4 separate regions of the Homo sapiens genome follow, and regions 2, 3 and 4 are each linked to region 1. Evidence: fine-mapped expression QTL. A gene starts in region 1. Each other region holds a variant in brackets. All regions are shown on one strand. Distances are from middle to middle. Region 1 holds the start of CLHC1 (clathrin heavy chain linker domain containing 1). Region 2 overlaps CLHC1 (clathrin heavy chain linker domain containing 1). Region 3 overlaps CLHC1 (clathrin heavy chain linker domain containing 1). Region 4 has its middle 64 kb from the start of CLHC1.

Region 1 (5,152 bases):
CGAAGTCTCAACACAAGATGAAGAGTAGACTCCTGTTAATGGAAGAATGAAGCAAGCTTTCATGATTCCACTAAGAATGGGCACACCCAACATTATGCATTTTCTAATTAAAAGCAGTAGCAGCACACAATAACATTTGAGGGAATCTTGCAGCCCCCAAACCCAATAAAGTATCAGATTCTTAACTGACAGTTTATAGGGACATTAAAGAATGCATTACATTACACCATGGGATACAACTTGCAAAATTCATAATGGGAGAACTATAGCAGTGCTTCTCAAGTATCAGTATAGGAGTTACCTAAAAATCTACTGCTATTCGAATGCCATTTTCCCTTTTTGTGTGTCAAAATGTCCAGAATACACCACATGGAGTGGCTCACGTCTGTAATCCCAGCGCTGGGAGGCCACGGTGGGAAGATCACTTATGCCCAGGAGTTTGAGACCAGCCTGGGCATGGTGGCGGGTGCCTATAGTTCCAACTACAGGAGGCTGAGGTGGGAGGACCACCTGAGTCTGAGAGGTGGAGGTTGCAGTGACTGCGCCACTCACTCCACCCTAGGTGACAGAGTCAGAGCCTGTCTCAAAAAAAGTAAAATAAAAAATTTCCAAAATAACATTTTTTTTTTAAAAGAGGCTGCTCTTCCCCTAGACAGACCTTTTGAATATTGTAGTCAGACAAAGTACGTCCATCTTCCAGCTGCTTGCCAGCAAAGATCAGTCTCTGCTGATCAGGAGGAATTCCTAATGACAAAAAACAAAAATTAAGTCACAGCACACCAAGCCTGTGATGTGCTCCAGACTTATAAGGTAACACCCCTTAATCAAATACATGATACTAAAGGCTGACAATAAGCCCTTACTAGAGGTTAGGCATGGTTCTAAATCTTTACATGTCACATTTTACCGCATTTAATATTAGGGACAATACTTGGTTGTCTGCAGTGGCTGACACCTGTAATACCAATACTTTGGGAGGTCGAGGTGGGCAGATCACTTGATGTGAAAAGTTCAAAACCAGCCTGGCCAACAAGGTAAAACCCAGTCTCTACTAAAAATACAATAAATTAGCCAGGCATGGTGGTGCACGCCTGTAATCCCCACTAATAGGGAGGCTGAAGCACAAAAATCACTTGAACCCGGGAGGCGGAGGCTGCAGTAAGCCGGGACAAGCGAATGCACTCCAGCCTGGGCGACAGAGGAGACTCCATCTCACACAAAATAAATAAATAAGTGTCCAAATTCACGCAAGTGAAATACACCTCAAGGATTCCAATCTAGGTACTGTGCTCCCCGATCACCAATGTCTATTGTGTTATTCCACAAGTATTTCGCTTTGTCAATCTGACCCCTTCCCCCATCACCAAGAGCAGGTATGTCTAGCACCTACAGGTAGGCCGAAGTCTCCGCAGGTTAAGTTTTCTTAACTACAAAATACTACTTGCCTTCCTTATCCTGGATCTTGGCCTTTACATTTTCTATCGTATCCGAGGGTTCAACCTATGAGTGTTAAAGTGAAAGCATGTTGGTTACACATTAAGGAACTACAGCAGAACTCATTTAGTTTGACAATTACCACTGAACCGAACCAGCGACAGGGCTGAGACCTACTCGAGAGACCTATTACCCACCCAGTGGGCAACCTCCCAAGTCGGCTACCGGAAAGCACCTTCATCTCCCCAGCCCAGAGCGGGCGGCGGCCGCAGGGCCACACGTGCTCGCACCCGGCGGGCAGAGCGTCTCCTTCCCCACCGCAGCTCCTCCGTTTTAACTAACTAGCTGGAACCCCTCGAGAGGAGACAGGTCCAGCCTTTGGCCACCGAAAATCACCTCTAGGTCGTTGCTCAGCAAAAGGTACTCATTTCAAAGCTTAAGTTTTAGAACCCAAATTCGGAATCATGGTCTAAGACATGGAAAGCAGCGCCGGTCCTAAAATCCACCTCAGGACCTTATTCGGACCTTGGCTTCCTCATGACCACCCGGCCCGTACCTCGAGGGTGATGGTCTTCCCCGTAAGGGTTTTCACGAAAATCTGCATTTTGGTGGCGGCTCCACCTGAGGTTGAGGAAAAGGAAGAGACAGGTTAGGTCAGGGATCACAAGAGAAGGCACCATAGGGTGCTAACCCGAGAGCAGCCGAAGTGCAGACACCCACCGCAGATGGCGGATCGAAAAGGAAGAACGCCGCGCAGGCCCACGGGGTTTCCCGGAGCTCCCGCCGAAGGACCCACCCCTTAGGCGACCACACCAAATGCCTGACTGCCGTCCCAGCGACAATCCAACCCGGTGCCAGACTAGGACGTGAACTTCGTTTCTCCTCTCCCTAGCCTGGGCTTATTTCTCACTTTAGCCTTCGGAATGCTTTCGAAACTGTAGGTTTAAGCAACGTAAAAGATGTTTTAAAAAGGCTTTTCCCGTACAATCAACGTGGCTAAGAGAATTTTTAAAAGGAGGTCGAGGGGGGCCTCTTGGGGAAGAGGTAGGAAATGGAAGTGCATTCTGGGAACTGTAGTTCTCCACTGCTTTCTTCTACCTTGGACTACTTGTCCCAAGATGCAGTTCCACCTCCCAGATTCCCTAGTTACTATCTCTAAGCACTGAAGTCGGTGTTTGGAGAAAAGGACTCAGGTGAGGACTGGAGGTAGGATGAAGCGGAATAATGGTTTCCGGAGCGTGGGAACGGGCCGGAAGTGACTAGAGCAAATGTTAAGCGGGGGGCAAAGGGTGCGGGGCACGAAAGGTGTCCTTCACTCACTTCCAGAAGCGGTGATGGGCAGAGAATCAGCAATCTACCAGACGCTCCTTGGGCCTTCAAGGGAAGGGAATTTGCGTGGCCTGCTCCAGGCAAACTGAAAAATAGGTGAAATCTGCGGAAGCGGGGGTTCAGCCCTTTCTCTCCTGTAGCGCCTCCCTGCTTTCAACCGCCGAGTCTCTCCCAGCCTAGGGAAGAGTCTGGGTCTTGTGTGTCACTCCTTAGTGTGACACGCTTTAATATGTTGAAAAATCTCAGGAGTTTTCAAATTTTAAAGTGAAGCCGTACGGAAAAGAAACCTGCAGAATGGTTATTTAGTTGTAGAATTTCCAAATTTGGGCATTGGGAGTCTTGGATCTGAGAGGAAGTTTTTGGAGTATGTATGGGGTGCTTCTTCCGGCAAGGAGGCCAATTAGAAGCAAGTTCTCCCTGTCCTTTCTCCACTCCACAAACCAGAGTCCTTTCTAATGTCTTCTGTATTTATTTCTTCATCCTCTGCCCTCTGCGACCCCATCCCCAAATTCAGACCTTAATTTTCTCTTGTAGGGGTTCCGAATCTAACTCCTTATCTCTCTCCAGTCTTTCCTCCTTTCTAACCCACCTTCACTATTGCCTCCAAAATATTCATTCTGAAAGGTAAATGTGTGTTATTATTTTATACCTCACCTTCAGGATACAATTCAAATTTCTTAGAATGACATTCAGCCTCTGCCTTCCTTACAACCTAATCTGCTAAACCCATTACTCTACATTTTAGTAAATGAAGCTAATTTAATTTCCTGACCTATGCCCTCCCGTGTTTTGGCATTTCTGAAGAATCCAGTCGTTTATTCTTCCTGGAACTTTTTTTTTTTTTTTTCGTGAGACGGAATTTCGCTCTGTTGCCCAGGCTGGAGTGCAGTGGCGCGGTCTCGGCTCACTGTAAACTCCGCCTCCCAGGTTCAAGCAATTCTTCTGCCTCAGCCTCCCGAGTAGCTGGGATTACAGGCGCCCACCACCACACCCGGCTAATTTTTGTATTTTTAGTAGAGATGGGGTTTCACCATGTTGGCCAGGCTGTTCTCTAGCTCCTGACCTCAAATGATCCATCCTCCTTGGCCTCCCAAAGTGGTGAGATTACAGGCGTGAGCCACCACGCCCTGCCTCCTGGAACATTTTTCATCCCCTAGTCCGCCAACTAGTCTCTACAACAAAATTTCCTAGAGTTGCTTGTACATATTGTCTCTAATCTTTCCCTTCCGTTGTCTGAACCCACTCCTGTCAGGCTTTTGTCCCCACCATTCTGATCGGATAGCTCTTGTAATGGTCACTAATGACCTCCATGTTGCTAAATTCAATGGTCATTTCATCTTATTTGATCTGTCAGCAGTATTTGACACAGTTGCTCATTCCATCTCTCTTTGAAAACCTTTCAAAGACTTCACCTCTCAGTTTTTCTGCCACCCTGGAGGCTCTTTTCCAGGCTCATTTGCTGCTTCCTCTTGATCTGCAAGACCTCTAACCATGGAGTATCCCCAAGGCCCAGTCCTTGGACCTCTGCTTTGTCTGCATTTTCTTGGTTATCTCATTTTTGTTTAATAACTTTTAAAGTATCATCATATGCAAATGACTCATAAACTTATCTGTCAGACCAGATATGTCACAGATATGTCACAACTTCATCTTCACATATCCAGCTATCTACTCAACATCTCTAATGGACAGGCCCCAAACACTTAATCTCATGAAATTGCTCTTCCCATGTTTATATATGGCAATTCCCATTTCTCCAGTCACTAAGGCCAAAAACTTTATGATTATCCTTGACTGTTCTTTTATATCCCACATCTTATCTACCTTGGCAGATCTTGGCTTTATTTTCAAAATATATGCAGAACACTTCCTACCACCTCCATTGTTAGCACCCTGATTCAAGCCACCATCATCTTTTGCCTTGATTATTGCAGTAGCTTCGTAACAGCACTTCCAGCTTTGACCCTTGCGTCCTATAATCTGTTTTCCACAGAGCAACAAGAACAATTCTTTTTTTTCTTTTTTTTGAGATGGAGTTTCGCTGTTGTTGCCCAGGCTGGAGTGCAATGGCACAATCTTGGCTCACCGCAAACTCTGCTTCCCGGGTTAGGTGATTCTCCTGCCTCAGCCTCTCCAGTAGCTGGGATTACAGGCATGCGCCACCACGCCCAGCTAATTTTGTATTTTTAGCAGAGACAGGGTTTTTCCATGTTGGTCAGGCTGGTCTGGAACTCCCGACGTCAGGTGATCTGCCCGCCTTGGCCTCCCAGAGTGCTGGGATTACAGGCATGAGCCACCATGCCTGGCCAAGAACAATTCTTTAAAATGTTAAGTCAGCTCTCCCACTCTTCTGCACACAGGCCTCTAAAGGCTTCGAATCTCACTCAGA
Region 2 (5,152 bases), 52 kb after region 1:
CATAGCTTTTTTTCACTCGCTTTTAGATATTAATAGTTTTATTTTTAGGTACCCAAAAGTCTAGTCTAAACTAAATAGAAACTGCAATCTCTTGTTTAATCTAAAATTTTTCCCCTTACCCTGGTTAGGCTCTGATTTGGCTCTAGAACCTATTGAGGCTCAGGAGACATGTTTGCTTCTTCTTTACTCTGCTACTCTCTCCTCTTCTAATCACTAGGCAGCTTTACAGTGGGGTTATATAAGGGACAGGAAAGGTCTTACTCAACTGGTGCAGTGGTCATTAGGCTTTGATGTTTCTTGGGTGTGGTAGATGCCCAATGTTGCCTCCTAGTTTACTGCTTTAGTCTTTGTTTTTTAGGGCCTTCCCTCACTGGGGACTTTCCATTGTGCCTTTTATTGATTCAGGAGGTATTACTTTAGCTGGCTGCTAATGATTCTGGTGGTGTGTACCCCCAAAGACTCTCTCAGGTGGGGTTATCTGGTCTGCATGCAGACCTCTCTGAGAGAGCCTTTTCAAGACAACCAGCCTACCCGCCTTTCATGGAATCTCCTTCACCCTTAAGGAACATGCAATCTTGTGAAAGTAGAATTTGCTCGTACTTTAATTCTCTTTACTCACTCTAGCCTTTCACCTTTAAACTTTCCAGGCAAATATCAGGCTCTGGTCTTTTTGTTCTCTAAATTCCAAGACATCCATATCCAGTAGTTCTCTCTAAACTGTCTCACTTGACTTTGAGGAGGAGAATTAAAGAAAAATCTAGGAAATAAGATATGGTGGTAAATTTATTTTCTGCTCACAAAAAGGAAAATAATCTGATGGATTAATTAAGAGTTCAAATTGACAGTCTTCCTCCCCTGCAAGTTCAAGCATTGAGTGTACATACAGCTTAATAAAAAATGAATTGTAGTCATGCTGATTTGGGATTGACATACTTTTTTGGTCACTGGCTGAATCTACATGTAAATTTCAGGATCCTAATTTGTCATCCTCATTGAATTATTTTCAAAGTTAGGGTATGTTAGACTAAGTATATTCCTTTAAATGTCCAGTTTTATATTTGCCTCATTTGATTGGTCATTAAAGCAGGATAGTTTGCATTAGGAATTTTATCCTCTGTGTATCTGCAGCTGCACCTTTTGTTCTCTTCGGTCATAGCAAATTGGCCTCATTAACAGCAGAACCCTATTACTTAAAAGAAAAATATATTCGCTCACAGTTCTGGAGGCCAGAGCTCTGAAATCATGGTGTCAAGGGTTCATTCCTTCTGGAGGCTCTAAGGGAGATTCCATTCCATGCCTCTCTCCTAGCTTCTGGTGGTTGTCAGCGATTTTTAGCCTCCCTTGGCTTGTAGCAGATCATTCCAATCTCTGCCTCCATCTTCACATGGCACGTGATATTTAGTCATTTAGATAAAGTTTAATCTATAAGCATGAGTTAAAAATTATAAATGTGTAATTTTAGATTGTTAAAGTTTTAGAAAAGCAAAGGCACAAAAATAGTAATATGAGATAAGAAAAAGCAAACTATTTCTTAAAGTATTTGACTCAGAAAATTTTCTCCTTTCTGTAGCTGTTGGAAAAATTAGAGGAAAGCCTCTTCCATTACTCTTATTTTTTGAGGCCCTCTTTATCACAAGTCATGCTTTTCCATGTCCTGTTGATGCAGCTCTAACCCTGGAAGGAATCAAATGTGGATTATCAGAAAAACGGTTAGATTTAGTTACCAATTGGGTTACACAGGAAAGGTAAGCAAAGTTAAGCTTTTAACTTAATTTTGACATTTCGTTAATAAAGTTGTTTGTTCTAAAAATATTAATAGCTTTATCAATATGTTACTTGAACATTTACTTCAGGTCCCTATTGCAATTAATCAGAAAGTGTTTAGTGGTCGGGTGTGGTGGCTCATGCCTCTAATCCCAACACTTTGGGAGGTAGAGGTGGGAGGATCGCTTGAGGTCAGGAATTCAAGACCATCTTGGCCAACATGGTGAAACCCTGTCTCTACTGAAAATACAAAAATTAGCCAGACGTGGTGGCCAGGTGCAGCAGCTCACACCTGTAATCCCAGCATTTTGGGAGTCCGAGGTGGGCAGATGACTTGAGGTCAGGAGTTCAAGACCAGCCTAGCCAACATGGTGAAACCCCATCTCTACTAAAAATACAAAAATTAGCCAGGCATGGTGGCGCACGGCTGTAGTCCCTGCTACTCAGGAAGCTGAGGCAGGAGAATCGTGTGAACCAGGGAGGCAGAGGTTTCAGTGAGACGAGATCGCGCCACTGCACTCCAGCCTGGGTGACAGAGCGAGACTCAATCTAAAAATATATATATATATGCATTTAGTTTCCTGTAGAAATCTAATTTTCTTAGCAAATACACCACTACATTCCAAATAACTTTATTTTCATATTGACTATTATCGGGGTGATAGAAATTGACAAGTAATCATTTCAATTACATAATCAATTGCCTATTAAATTGTAACTTGGAATTCTTACAGGTAGTAGAAAATCCAGTCCTACTGTGCTGAATTTTCAAATATTTCAGTCTCAGCCACTCATCAGGAATTTTCTAACATATGTCTTATTGATCTGCTTGTTCTAGACTGACATTTTCTGAGGAGGCTGGGGATGTGATTTGTGATTATGGGGAGCAGGATACTTATAACAAGGCCAAGTGCCTGGCTTTAGCTCAGATTGTCTACAGTGAATGTGGCCTGCACAAGAAAGCTATTCTTTGCTTGTGTAAACAGGGTCAGACTCATAGGGTCATGGAGTACATACAGCAGTTGAAGGACTTTACTACCGG[T/A]AAGTTAAAAAGTCTGCCATTTGTATACATTTGAATTCTGGGCTTTAATTGTAAGATTACCCATAATAGCAAGCACTACTTTAAACTTACGTTATAAAATCAATTTTATATATACCAATAAGTAGGAGATTTCTTGTGTAATTTTTCATGAACATAGTAAGCTGGAGCTGATTGGCTTTCATGCTGGATATTCAAAAATATTATGTATTTCCTCAAAATACAAACATTTAATAAGCCAGATAGTCCTGGAAATATACAGTTTTAAAGATAGATTTAGCAGATATACTAGAACATACTACATATATGATTTTTAAAAATAACTTATTTGTGAGATATATATATATATATTTTTTTTTGAGATGGAGTCTCACTCTGTTGCCAGGCTGGAGTGCAGTGCTGCGATCTTGGCTCACTGCAAGCTCTGCCTCCTGGGTTCACACCATTCTCCTGCCTCAGCCTCCCAAGTAGCTGGGACTACAGGTGCCCGCCACTACGCCCGGCTAACTTTTTGTATTTTTGGTAGAGACAGGGTTTCACCGTGTTAGCCAGGATGGTCTTGATCTCCTGATCTTGTGATCTGCCCGCCTCAGCCTCTCAAAGTGCTGGGATTGCAGATGTGAGCCACCGCACCCAGCCTGTGATATATAATGTTTTGAACTGTAATATAAGCATCAGAAATGAAGAATTTCTAATTTATTTCAAAATTTTAAAACACAATTGAACAGTAATCTGAGATTACAATTGAACGGTAATCTGAGAGAACTGTGGACCTTAGGGTGACCCTAGTTGGAAGAGCAGAGCTCTTATTCTGGATCTAGTTTGGCAATAACTGTAAGTACAGGCATTGCTGACATCTCCCCATCCCCCAGGCCAGTGCCTGTCCTGATTTGCAGGCTATGTATCCCAGTTCTAAGAAGATGCAAAATGGAACCAAACATGGCCATTTTTAGGTCACATTATTCCAGGAAAAAGGAGTTTTAGTAGTTGTTGAATCTGGTCATTTTCAAGCAATTAATTGACTTTTTCTTAGAATCTATGTTGTTGTTTTTTTAAGTTACAAATTTCTTCATTAATAACAGCATGCCCTATACTATTATTGTAATAATAGCTAGGCTTTTTTTCATGGATTATCTCACTTAATCCTTATGTTGACTCTATGAGGTAGGTTTTGTTATTGTCCCATTTTATAGATGCAAAAATAGTATGTTTCCACAGAGAGGCTGAGGCACAGCTAGAGCTAAGTGATTTGGTTATGTAGTGACAGGACAGAATCTGGCATAGTAGGTATTAATTAATATTCCATTACCTAAGTATACAGTTTCAGTTTCTGTGTTGTTAACTATTATTTTTCCATATGTAAGAATTATATTAGTTAATGTTTAGACATGGGATATAGATTTTAATTACTCTTAGAATTTAAAAATTTTAGGGATGGGTCTGTAGTCCCAGCCACTCAGGAGGCTGAGATGGGAAGATCGCTTGAGCCCAGGAGTTCTAGGCTGCAGTGAGCTGTGATTGTGGCACTGCATTCCTGCCTGGGCATCAGAGTGAGACCTTATCCAATAATAATAATAATAATAATAATAATAATTTTTTAAAAAATAAAATGGATTTTGAAATGTAGTAAGAAAAAGGGAGACGAGGAGTTCAAGAGTAGCCTGGAGCAACATAGTGGGACCCCATCTCTATATATTAAATACATTTTAAAAACCCAAGGCTTTCAGAGTTCAAATTATGTTTCGGGTAGTCCTTGAAAGGCTCTCAGAAGTTATTCTGAAAATTACCTCTATTGTGGCCGCAAAATAATATTTTTACTTTAAAATATTTAGGAAGTTAATACCAAGTTTATAAATTTGAGAGTATAGAGTGGGGCATGCCTGTAATCTCAGCTACTGGGAAGGCTGAGGCGGGAGACTGCGTGAGCCCAGGAGTTTGAGGATACAGTACACAATCATTATGCCTATGGTGAGCCATGCACTCCAGCCTGGGCCACACAGTGAGACTTTGTTTTGAAAAAATTTAAGAATACAAATCATAATTGTAGCTTTAGATTACCTCAATGGTTAACTATTGGGTTAACCCAATAGAGATTAACCCATATGGAATTGTTCTTTTTGTGGCCAAATATAGGAAACTTCATATGGTTCCACCTCTGGCTACTTGAAATAGCTACTGGCTTCTTAAAGTTTTCATTTTTGAATTTCTAAATGCTTGATAGTTTTAGGAAAAAAATTACTGAGTTGCTTTTTCTGTGCAAGGCACAGAAAGAAAGACATTATACTCACCAGAATTTGGTCCAAATATGAGCAACAAGATATAGACAAACAAACTGTAGTATTAGATGGA
Region 3 (5,152 bases), 26 kb after region 1:
TGTTAGGAGCCATAGCAATAAGCTGTTGGTATTAAACACATGTATGTTTATTGTTTTCTATTGGTAAGTAACCTTAAATATCTTCCAGTAGTACTTTCAATATTTACAGGTGACCAAGGCATTGTTGAAGAACTAATGGAAGATGATCCACGCAGGGCAAAAGAAGCTGAAATTATGCTTCACTACATTGAAAGGCAAATATTTTAAAAGCTTTAATTTTTCAGAATTATATTTTTTCATAGATTCTTTGTGAATAACATACCAGATTGGGAATCTAGGAGATTTTTCAGAGGAGATAAGAGGATTATAATGTTGATATGTTTTATTTATACAGGTTAAGCATTCCTAATCCAAAAATTTGAAATCTGAAATGCTCCAAAATCCGAAAAATTTTGAGCACTGACATGAGATAGTGATACCTCTGTTTTGTGATAGATCAATATGTACACAAATTTTGTTTCATGCACAAAATTATTAGAAATATTATATAAAATTGCCTTCAGGCTATGTGTATATGGTATATATGAAATATAAATTTTGTGTTTAGACTTGGATCCCATCCCCAAGATATCTCATTATGTACATGCATATATTCCAAAATATGAAAAAATCTGAAATCCAAAACACTTCTGGTCCCACGCATTTAGGATAAGGGAAACCCAGCCTGTATTTTTCTTACATTTCCTAGCTATCAACCTGATGTTACAAAATGTTTTTGAGAATGTCTTCCTGATTCAGATTATTCTAGCCAATTCAGTCCTTTCTTTCTCATTACTTCTATCCCCTGACTTATTAAGGAGGCATATTTCTCCCTAATACTTAAGTTATTATACATAGTATATAAGATTAAAGAGATTTAAGACTATATTCTTTTTTACTTTGTTTACTTTTTATCAAACATTACTTTCATCAAATATTTCAAGTATACATAAAAATACAGACAATAACATTAACAAAATGTTATTCTGTGTACCAACTTAGCAAGAAATTAACATTTTGCCGTATTTACTTCAGCTCTTTTTGTAGAAGTTTGTTACAGTTGACATCCTACTGTGTATCATTCCTGCTATCTTCAATTCCTTTTCCCTCCTTTTTTCCCCTCACAGTTGCTCCCCTGGTGTTTAACATGCAGGAGCATTTTTAAACATTTTTAATACATAGTAAGACTATATTCTTTAAGAGGTTAATTCATAGGCTATGACGCTTATCTGTAATGAACATATGTAATATTCCTGGTCTTTATATGTTAAACAGTTTTCAACTGTTAATTGGATTGTTGGTATGGTAAAAAGAAGGGGGTAAATATAATTTTGGGCAGAGCACAAAAGCTCATGTTATTTCCTTACACTGTAATGCTTCTGTAAGTCTGACAGTTTGATATGAGAGAAAAACCCTTGTTGAGATTGAAAGTTTTATGTATTTTGCTTAATATTACTTTAGTGGGTTTTCCGCCTGGGGCTCCACATTCATTTGCAACACTGTGTAACTTCTGTTTATCATAGTTTTATTAATTGTGAGGTAAGGACTGATTTGAAGACCTTTTGCCATAGGAAGAGGAGTAGAGGCTTAAGTTATCTTAACTATTATCTTTCCTTCTTGTGCTAATCTTCGATTGGGAACCTGTTGCCTGGCAGAACAACATAGGCTTCTGAATACCAAGGACACCTCTTGATCTCCAGTTTGGCAGCTTCATTTTTTTTTTTTTCAGACGGAGTCTCACTCTGTCGCCCAGGCTGGAGTGCAGTGGCACAATCTTGGCTCACTGCAACCTCTGCCTCCCGGGTTCAAGTGATTCTCCTGCTTCAGCCTCCTGAGCAGCTGGGACTACAGGCACATGCCACCACGCCTGGCTAATTTTTTTTTTTTTTTGTATTTTTAGTAGAGACAGGGTTTCACCATCTTAGCCAGGATGGTCTCGATCTCCTGACCTCGTGATCCCCCATCCTCGGTCTCCCAAAGTGCTGGGATTACAGGCATGAACCACCATGCCCGGCCCAATTTGGTAGGTTCTATCTTCAATTAATATTTCCTTTAGGCGATGTTTCTAAGCAGATTGCCCTTCTTTCCTCTGATGCCAGTACTTTTTCATGTGGAGATGATATGCAGGGAAAAAAATCTGAGTTCATAATAAATTCAAGTTCTTTCTTCCATCCTCTATGGCTTGCTGTAAGTGCTATAGGAATAAAGTTTAGGATCATGTTCAAAGTCAGCTAGCAGGTGGGAGTTTTATTCTGAGACTTAAAAAAAACCCAACAGAGTACTAGAGAAGGATTTCAAGGAACATCTTACAGTGTGAATGATTCTAGTTATAGTTTATTAGAATTCCTTTTTGTTTTTCCATATCGTTATGCCGCTATATTTAGTCTGTATTAAACATTTCTAATCAGTTTTTTCTCTTTTTCTTTGTGTCATTATAATGCATTTTAAAATGTGATGGCTATAGGTTTAATGAGTTAATCTCACTTGGTGAATATGAAAAGGCAGCTTGTTATGCAGCAAACAGTCCTAGAAGAATTCTTCGAAACATTGGTACAATGAATACATTTAAGGGTAAGCATTTCTCTCTGAACCTTATATATGTATGAAAATTTACTACTTTTTCTCTCATAAAATAGAAAAAGCATTAAACTGGGAGACTAAAGATCTAGGCCCCAGCCCTATCTCTACCATTTACTCAGTTTGCTTAGCAGTAACATTAGGGATTTGATTAGATTTTCTAAATTACATTATGAACGATTTTAAGTATACAGAAAAGTATGGAGAAACATTAACACCCATGTACTCACTATCAAGATTTAATAAATGTTAATACTTTGTCAAATTTGCTCCACATCCTTTTAAAACACAGCTTCCTTGTGGTAAATTGACATAATACAACAAATTGTACATATTAAAGTACACAATTTGGTAAGTTTTTTTTTTTTT[G/TG]AGACAGAGTTTCATTCTTGTTGTCCAGGCTGGAGTGCAGTGCACAGTCTTGGCTCACTGCCACCTCTGCCTCCCAGGTTCAAACGATTCTCCCGTTTCAGCCTCCCGAGTAGCTGGGATTACAGGTGTGTGCCACCACACCCATCTAAATTTTTTGTATTTTTAGTTGAGACAGGGTTTCCCATGTTGGCCAGACTGGTTTCAAACTCCTAACCTCAGGCAATCCACCTGCTTTGGCCTCCCAAAGTACTGGAATTACAGGTGTGAACCATCGTGCCCAGCCCAATTTGGTAAGTTTTGACATATGCATACACCCATGAGATTATCACTCAAAAGTTCCCTCATGCCCCTCAGTATCCCTCTCTTCCTGCTACTTCCTAGTTCTCTCGCCCTAATTTATTTTACTTAGGATAATGGCGTTCAGTTTTATTTTATGGCTGAGTAGTATTCTGTGGTGTGTGTGTGTGTGTGCGTGTGTGTGTGTGTGTGTGTGTATTTTCTTTATCCAATCATCCCTTGATGGACACTTAGGTTGATTCTCTGACTTTGCTATTGTGAATAGTGCTGTGATAAACATAATGAATGCAGGTGTCTTTTTCATATAATAGTTTATTTTCCTTTGGGTAGATACCCAGTAGCGGGATTGCTGGATTGAATGGTAGTTCTATTTTTAGCTCTTTGAGAAATTTCCATACTGTATTCCATAGAGATTGTACTAATTTACATTCCCACCAAAAATGTAAAAGCGTTCCCTTTTCTCCACATCCTCTCCAACATCTGTTGCCTTTTGACTTTTTATTAATAGCCATTCTGATTGGTGTAAGATGGTATCTCATTGTGATTTTGTAGTTCCCTGCTTTGTAGATTTCCCTGCTTTGGGCAGTATGGCCATTTTAACAATTTAACTATTTTTTTTAACCCATTAAACAGCCCAACTCCCCCACCCAACTCCCCTACTACCCTTCATAGCCTCTGGTAACCATCCTTCTACTGTGTTCATGAGTTCAATTGTTTTTATTTTTAACTCCACCAACAAGTGAGAACATGTGAAGTTTGTCCTTCAGTGCCTGGCTTATTTCACCTAACATAATGACCTCCGGTTCCATCCATGTTGTTGTAAATGATAGGATCTCATTCTTTTTTATGACTGAATAGTACTCCATTGCCTATACGTACCACATTTTCTTTCCATTTGTCTGTTGATGGACACTTAGGTTGCTTCCAAATCTTGGCTATTGTGAATAGCACTGCATTAATCATAGGATTGTTGATCATATGGTATAATCATAGGATTGCTGGATCATATGGTAACCCAAGTTTTCATTTTTTGAGGAACCTCCAAAGTGTTTTCCGTAGTGGTTGTACTAATTTACATTCCCACCAACAGTGTACAAGGGTTCCCTTTTCTCCACATTCTTGCCAGCATTTCTTATTGCCTGACTCTTGGATAAAAGCTACTGTTTTAAGTGGGCTGAGATGATATCTCATTGTAGTTTTGATTTGTATGTCTCTAATGATCAATGATGTGGAGCACATTTTCATATGCCTGGTTGCCATTTGTATGTCTTCTTTTGAGAAATGTCTATTCAAATCTTTTGCCTTTTCTTTTTTTGACAGAGTTTCCCTCTTGTTGCCCAGGCTGGAATGCAATGGCGTGATCTCGGCTCACCACAACCTCCGCCTCCCAGGTCCAAGTGATTCTCCTACCTTAAACTCCCTAGTAGCTGGGATTACAAGCATGCACCACCATGCCCAGCTAATTTTGTATTTTTAGAAGAGATGGGGTTTCATCATGTTGGTCAGGCTGGTCTCTAACTCCTGACCTTAGGTGATCCACCTGCCTTGGCCTCCCAAAGTGTTGGGATTACAGGTGTGAACCACCTCACCTGGCCATCTTTTGCCCATTTTTAATCAGATTATTAGATTTTTTTCCTATGGAGTTGTTTGAGCTCCTTATGTATTCTGGTTATGAACTCCTTGTTAGGTGGGTAGTTTGCAAATATTTTCTCCCATTCTGTGGGTTGTCTCTTCACTTCGTTGATTGTATCCTTTCTGTGCAGAAGCTTTTTACCTTGATGTGATCCCATTTGTCCATTTTTTTCTTCAATTGCCTGTGCTTATGGGGTATTATGCAAGAAATTTTTGCCGAGACCAATGTCCTGGAGAATTTCCCCAATGTTTTCTTGTATGGTTTCATAGTTTGAGGTCTTAGATTTAAATATTTAAT
Region 4 (5,152 bases), 64 kb after region 1:
TACATTTTGAAGATTTGCCTACATGGATCCTTGCCTCTATCCAGTTAGCTCTTTAGTGGAAATTCCACTGTGGCTGTGGGGGGTCTCCATTATCATGTCATATATCAAACTGCAGCAATAATCACCACCAAGCATTTTTAGCTCTCCACTGGGTGCAAACTCTACCTTTAAGCTTTCATGTGTATTAATGTGTTAGGGCCACACTGAGAAGGATCCATCTTTTCCACTCAAGGAACAGTTGTATGGGTTAAATTCTGTTATCTTGTTTTATTAGGTCAGATAATAAAAATACTATCATAAATAGAGTGAGCTTTAGGTGGGTTTGTGCTTAACAGGAAGGGCATGTCACCCTTCTACCACTTTGGTTGTACACAGATCAGAATGTGTGACAACACATTCCCATCCATTTTCTCCTGGAACTCTTCCTTCGCCTCATACTGCTCACACATTTTGACTATATTGTTGTTATTGTTGTTGTTTGAGACGGAGTCTTCCTCTGTCACTCAGGCTGGAGGGCAGTGGTGCGATCTTGGCTCACTGCAACCTCCACCTTCTGGGTTCAAGTGATTATCCTGCCTCAGCCTCCCAAGTAGCTGAGATTACAGGCGCCCCCCACCACGCCTGGCTAATTTTTGTATTTTTAGTAGAGATGGGGTTTCACCATGTTGGCCAGACTGGTCTCAAACTCCTGACCTCAGGTGATCTGCCCGCCTTGGCCTCCCAAAGTGCTGGGATTACAGGCGTGAGCCACCATGTCCAGCCTGCTCACACACTTTGGTAATGTACATTTTGGAAGCAGCCCCCAGCAGTGGGACTGAATTGTCAAAAGATTTTTGCCAAATTGCTTAAAGAGTTAGGCGTTTATGAATTAATGATGATGAGTTTTGATTGCAGGCCCTGACCAACCCAAAGAGCAAACAGTTTGAAAAGTCAGCTTGAAAAGTCTGCAGGCTGTTTTTGGCCAGCCTCCTTGAGGTGAGTACTTAATGTTGATCAGCTTCTGAACACAACATCCAGAAACAGGTTTGTGCTGCTACTAGGATCAATAATGAGAATGCGAAAAACATTGGCAGAGAGATTCCAGTGGCCTTCCAGATTGCAGTGCAGAGAGCCTGCTTGCCAAGAAACCAAACATAGGTATTAATCTTGGCATCCGAGAATGTGACTCTCCCTGTTTTCTTGAGGGTGCAGGGACAGGGAGAATAATTGCCAAGGCTATTCCTTCTATTCCTTTGCCCAGGTTGGTCCCCTAGAGATGGAAAAAAGTCCTTTATGCTATTTGTGTGTATAAACAGTCTCCAAGTTTCTTCTACCCTCTGGGTATGCTTTTTCAGGTGTCAAATGAACATGATAATATTTTCTAAGAGATGATTTTCATGCTGACTCTTTCCCTAAGGAACAAGAGGTCTTGAAGAGCTCATAACACCAGTAGCAGATACCAGAAAAAGGTGCATATCTTAAACCCAAGTGACACATAAATTAGACATCAATAAGATTACAGCTACTCTCATTCTGTGATTTGTAATCCATGAAAAATTGCTTATAAAATGAATGTTTTCTAAATGAAACAGGACTGAAATGGTTATTTTGAAGAAATTTTCCTGGGAATGCTCTGTGAGATGAATCACCAACTCCTAATTTATCTGCCTGGTAAATGTTAGGTTTGCCTAATGCAAAGTGTCCCATTGATAGGGATAATAGCAGGCACCACAAACACTTGTTGAAATCATCTTTGCTTAAATGCTAAATAGAGCATCGAAACTAGTTTGAGGCTTCACATTAAGAAAACTGTTACTAATTTTGAGCATGTATAGATCGTGAAGATGTAGAAAGAAAAGTTGAAGGAATGGGGTTATTCAATTTGGGAAGAAAAAAACAAACATATAATCACAGTTCTGCCTTTGAGTGTCCAAAAGCCCTCACCTTAAGGATACAACAAACTCTAAGCCACATGAGCCATAGAACTAAATAATAAACCATTTTTATTTGAGACAGAATAATTTGCTGATGGTGGAGATTGTGAAGGCTGGTATTGGGTCAATAAAGAAAGTTGTAGAAGGAGCTACTCTGAAAGCCTTAAAAAATAAACTAGTTGCTCTCTTCTGTTTGATATAATTATGGTAGTTTCTGGGTTTTAGAGGAGTCCTAAAGAAAATTCTTGAGATGATCTTTTTTGGAGAAGCCCTGTGCAACACTCAAAATTACTTAATCCAACAACCATTTCCTGATTAGCTACTAAGAGAGGAATAAGACATCCTATGTATCTCATGGGTACTTGCAATCTAGAAGTAAAGTTATATACAAACAATTGTAATACAACATGGTAAGAGTTAAAATGGAAACATAACAGAACAATGACCTTTCTTGGTTAGGATTTACTAGAATATGTGCCAGTTTGACTCAGTAGATGGCGGCAGAGATGCCAGCAAGACCTTCAGTGATTGGAATTGTTTTTATGGGGAAGAAGTGAGGCTGGTCCTATTGTTTCTAGTC[G/A]TATTTTTCAATATAGTCATATTTTCTGGTTGGAAAGCTTGAGCAGCTCAAGGACCATTCTTGGAGGATTTGTATTCTTAAGAAGATGGCCCTTTAAGGAAAATTTACTCTATATGAAAATATGTAAACATCCAAGCACTTTTTCATATTTAGCTTTTCAGTGAAATAGGGATGAGGGTGGGGTGAGTGGGGTGAGTCCAGGCCTGGAGAGAGGACTTTGTTTTCTAAACATAGCATTTATTTTCGAGGCACTTCAAAGGATGTATTGTAGTAGGATCCTGCTCTTTATGCAGCAATCCTACACTGTTAGACGCTTGACCAGGCCCCTCGTGGCTTGGCTGACTTTTCTGTTTGTGCTGCTTTGGGCTGAAGCACAGGCTAGTTGAAGAGTTGTTGCTGATGCCGTAACTGTAGCTTTGAAACCTTTTGGCATGCTCAGTGTATTCTTCAGGAAACTAAGAAATGTAGACTTAGAAATAACCCAAGCCAGACAACTTGTTGCCAGATTGTGGGGAGTGTATTCTCCCAAAATCATTGAGATGGTTTCAGAACTAACTGAAGAGAGTGCCTGGTTATTCTGCTTGCACAGTCTTCAAGCCTTGATTCAAAGTGGGGCAATGAGATTAGTGCAGAGGTGAAGGCAAGAGGCGTCTGTGTGTGCCTCCGGAGAGACCCTAGCCTAGGAAGCAATTCTGAGACTTTGTTATTTTCTGACCAGAACTGCCAGCTCACGGATCTCCACATACCACTTAGCTTTTGAAGGGAGCCTATGAGCCAAGGTTAAGTCTTCTTTCACCCCACAGTTGGGGTTTTATTTGTTGTCTTTGTTCCTCAGCTCTGTCTCCATCAAAAACAAGATAATGAGCTTGTTGGTCAAGCAGCTTGTAATTTTCCCAGGTCAGCTGAGTGTCTAGAGGAGGAGAAACAAGGCCTGATGATTCCTGAGTAGGTGAATACATTTAGGAGGACAGAGAATTATTTGTAAGTCAGGGTTTCTCAACCTCAGCACTACTGACAGTTTGGACGGGATAATTCTTTGTTATGTGAGGTTGTCCTGTGGCCTTGTGGATGCAGGACACTAGATGCCAGTAATCACCCTCCCCAACCCCAGCTCCCCTGGCTATCAGAAATTGTGTTAGGCCACGCCCAGTGGTTTGGCGCCACTAGTGTGAGTTTTCCTCATGAGTATAAAAACTCTACCACTCCACAGTTAAATGTCATAGTTACTGGGTGGATCTTCTGTAAACAGGGTCAGAGATAGTAAAGTAAGGGCCTGGACCTCCCTTATTTCTTTCTCCAACATAAATCACTACTTATCATTGCAGATCCAGAAAGCATCTTTTTTTTTTTTTTTTTTTTTTTTGAGATGGAGTCTCACTCTGTCACCAGGCTGGAGTGCAGTGGCGCCATCTGGGCTCACACAACCTCCGACTCCCTGGTTCAAGCGATTCTCCTGCCTCAGCCTCTTGAGTAGCTGGAATTACAGGCACGTGCCACCGCACCCTGCTAATTTTTGTATTTTTAGTAAAGGTGGGGTTTCACCATGTTGGCCAGGATGGTCTCAATCTCCTGACCTCATGATCCACCCGCCTCGGCCTCCCAAAGTGCTGGGATTACAGGAGTGAGCCACTGCACCCGGCCAAGAAAACATCTTGAGCTATGTACATGGAAACAAACAAACAAAACAAAACAGGCCTTATCTCACTTTCAACTCAGAAATCTCAGTATCTCAGGGATTCTTGGTAAGACAGAAGTAACTGATGTGCTCAGATTTCTCTTGTAGGCAGAAGGCTATCACCTTCAAGCATGAGCTGCCTGCCTTCTGAACTCGCAGACCGCCTCTTCCGTTCTCTGGGGGCACATTGGCTTCCGTGTTCCTAGGTTTAACCTTTCTTCTTCCCTTGATCCCTTTGTATCTTCAGTTAGGAGCCCAGGCTGTGGAAATGCTTGCCTGGAAGGGTGGGAACCAAAGTGCCCTCAGTGGCTTTAGAATGTGACTTGTTATTGCATCCACTTGTGCCATTTGTCAAAGAGGATGATAAAGACTTGGCTCTATTAGGTGAGAAATTGGCATAGCTATTAAACTGACTGACATTCAAACCAAGCTTTATTACAGAAAGCTACAGAGATGATAGGATTGAAAACATGACCTTTTGCCAGAAAGCTAGTGGGAAATGGGATCATTAACCTTGAAGAAATATTACAGATGAACCATAAAGGATTACTGAACAGAGAACCTCATACATGTTTTCTACTTCTGCTTAAGACAACAAAAAGAAATTCACACAGGAATTTAATTTAAGTTAAAACTTTAAATTATTGCAGGGAGATGTTTTTGATAGTTAAGGTTTATGAACTTTATAAGGGGTGACAGTTCCGAGGGTGGGTTTGGAGTGCTCTTTAAAGGTCTTTAAGAACTGGCTGTACCTATATCTGACTGATTGGTTGAGGAAGGGCAGGTTCTGTGAGGGAAGGGATCACCTTTTCAGTACCCCTGCTCTGATGCTTGGATGGCCCAATACACATGTTGTGGTTGACTGTAAGGTGGCACCAAACTTAATTCTCTAAATAAGGACTTGGGCAATGTTCTTCACGGTGTGAGTTACCTGACCAGACTCAACAGATGACAATCTTCTCTCTGCCTTCAGCAGGGCTCTGC

The links. PIP is the estimated chance that this variant, and not a neighbour inherited with it, causes the effect.
Region 2: its variant is fine-mapped to the expression of CLHC1 in nasal epithelium (TOPMed, PIP 0.91).
Region 3: its variant is fine-mapped to the expression of CLHC1 in whole blood (INTERVAL, PIP above 0.99).
Region 4: its variant is fine-mapped to the expression of CLHC1 in whole blood (TOPMed, PIP above 0.99). The same link has a PIP of 0.9 or more in cerebellum.

What each region holds. Positions count from the first base shown.
Region 1 is chr2:55,229,711-55,234,862 of GRCh38, reverse strand. It overlaps CLHC1 (clathrin heavy chain linker domain containing 1), which reads left to right and starts at 2,570. Exons shown (of 13, transcript NM_152385.4): 1 at 2,570-2,640. RPS27A (ribosomal protein S27a) reads right to left here and starts at 2,175. Exons shown (of 6, transcript NM_002954.6): 1 at 2,155-2,175; 2 at 1,991-2,055; 3 at 1,446-1,500; 4 at 659-744; 5 at 1-32. The coding sequence starts at 2,038. RefSeq lists enhancers at 1,896-2,075, 2,096-2,525.
Region 2 is chr2:55,178,163-55,183,314 of GRCh38, reverse strand. It overlaps CLHC1 (clathrin heavy chain linker domain containing 1), which reads left to right. Exons shown (of 13, transcript NM_152385.4): 10 at 1,571-1,745; 11 at 2,603-2,805. Among named protein-coding and RNA genes, the nearest start is that of CLHC1, 52 kb to the left of the region's middle. The variant T/A (reference allele first, on the strand shown) is at 2,807.
Region 3 is chr2:55,203,668-55,208,819 of GRCh38, reverse strand. CLHC1 (clathrin heavy chain linker domain containing 1) reads left to right here. Exons shown (of 13, transcript NM_152385.4): 8 at 110-194; 9 at 2,444-2,550. Among named protein-coding and RNA genes, the nearest start is that of CLHC1, 26 kb to the left of the region's middle. The variant G/TG (reference allele first, on the strand shown) is at 2,926.
Region 4 is chr2:55,166,013-55,171,164 of GRCh38, reverse strand. No RefSeq gene overlaps it. Among named protein-coding and RNA genes, the nearest start is that of CLHC1, 64 kb to the left of the region's middle. The variant G/A (reference allele first, on the strand shown) is at 2,494.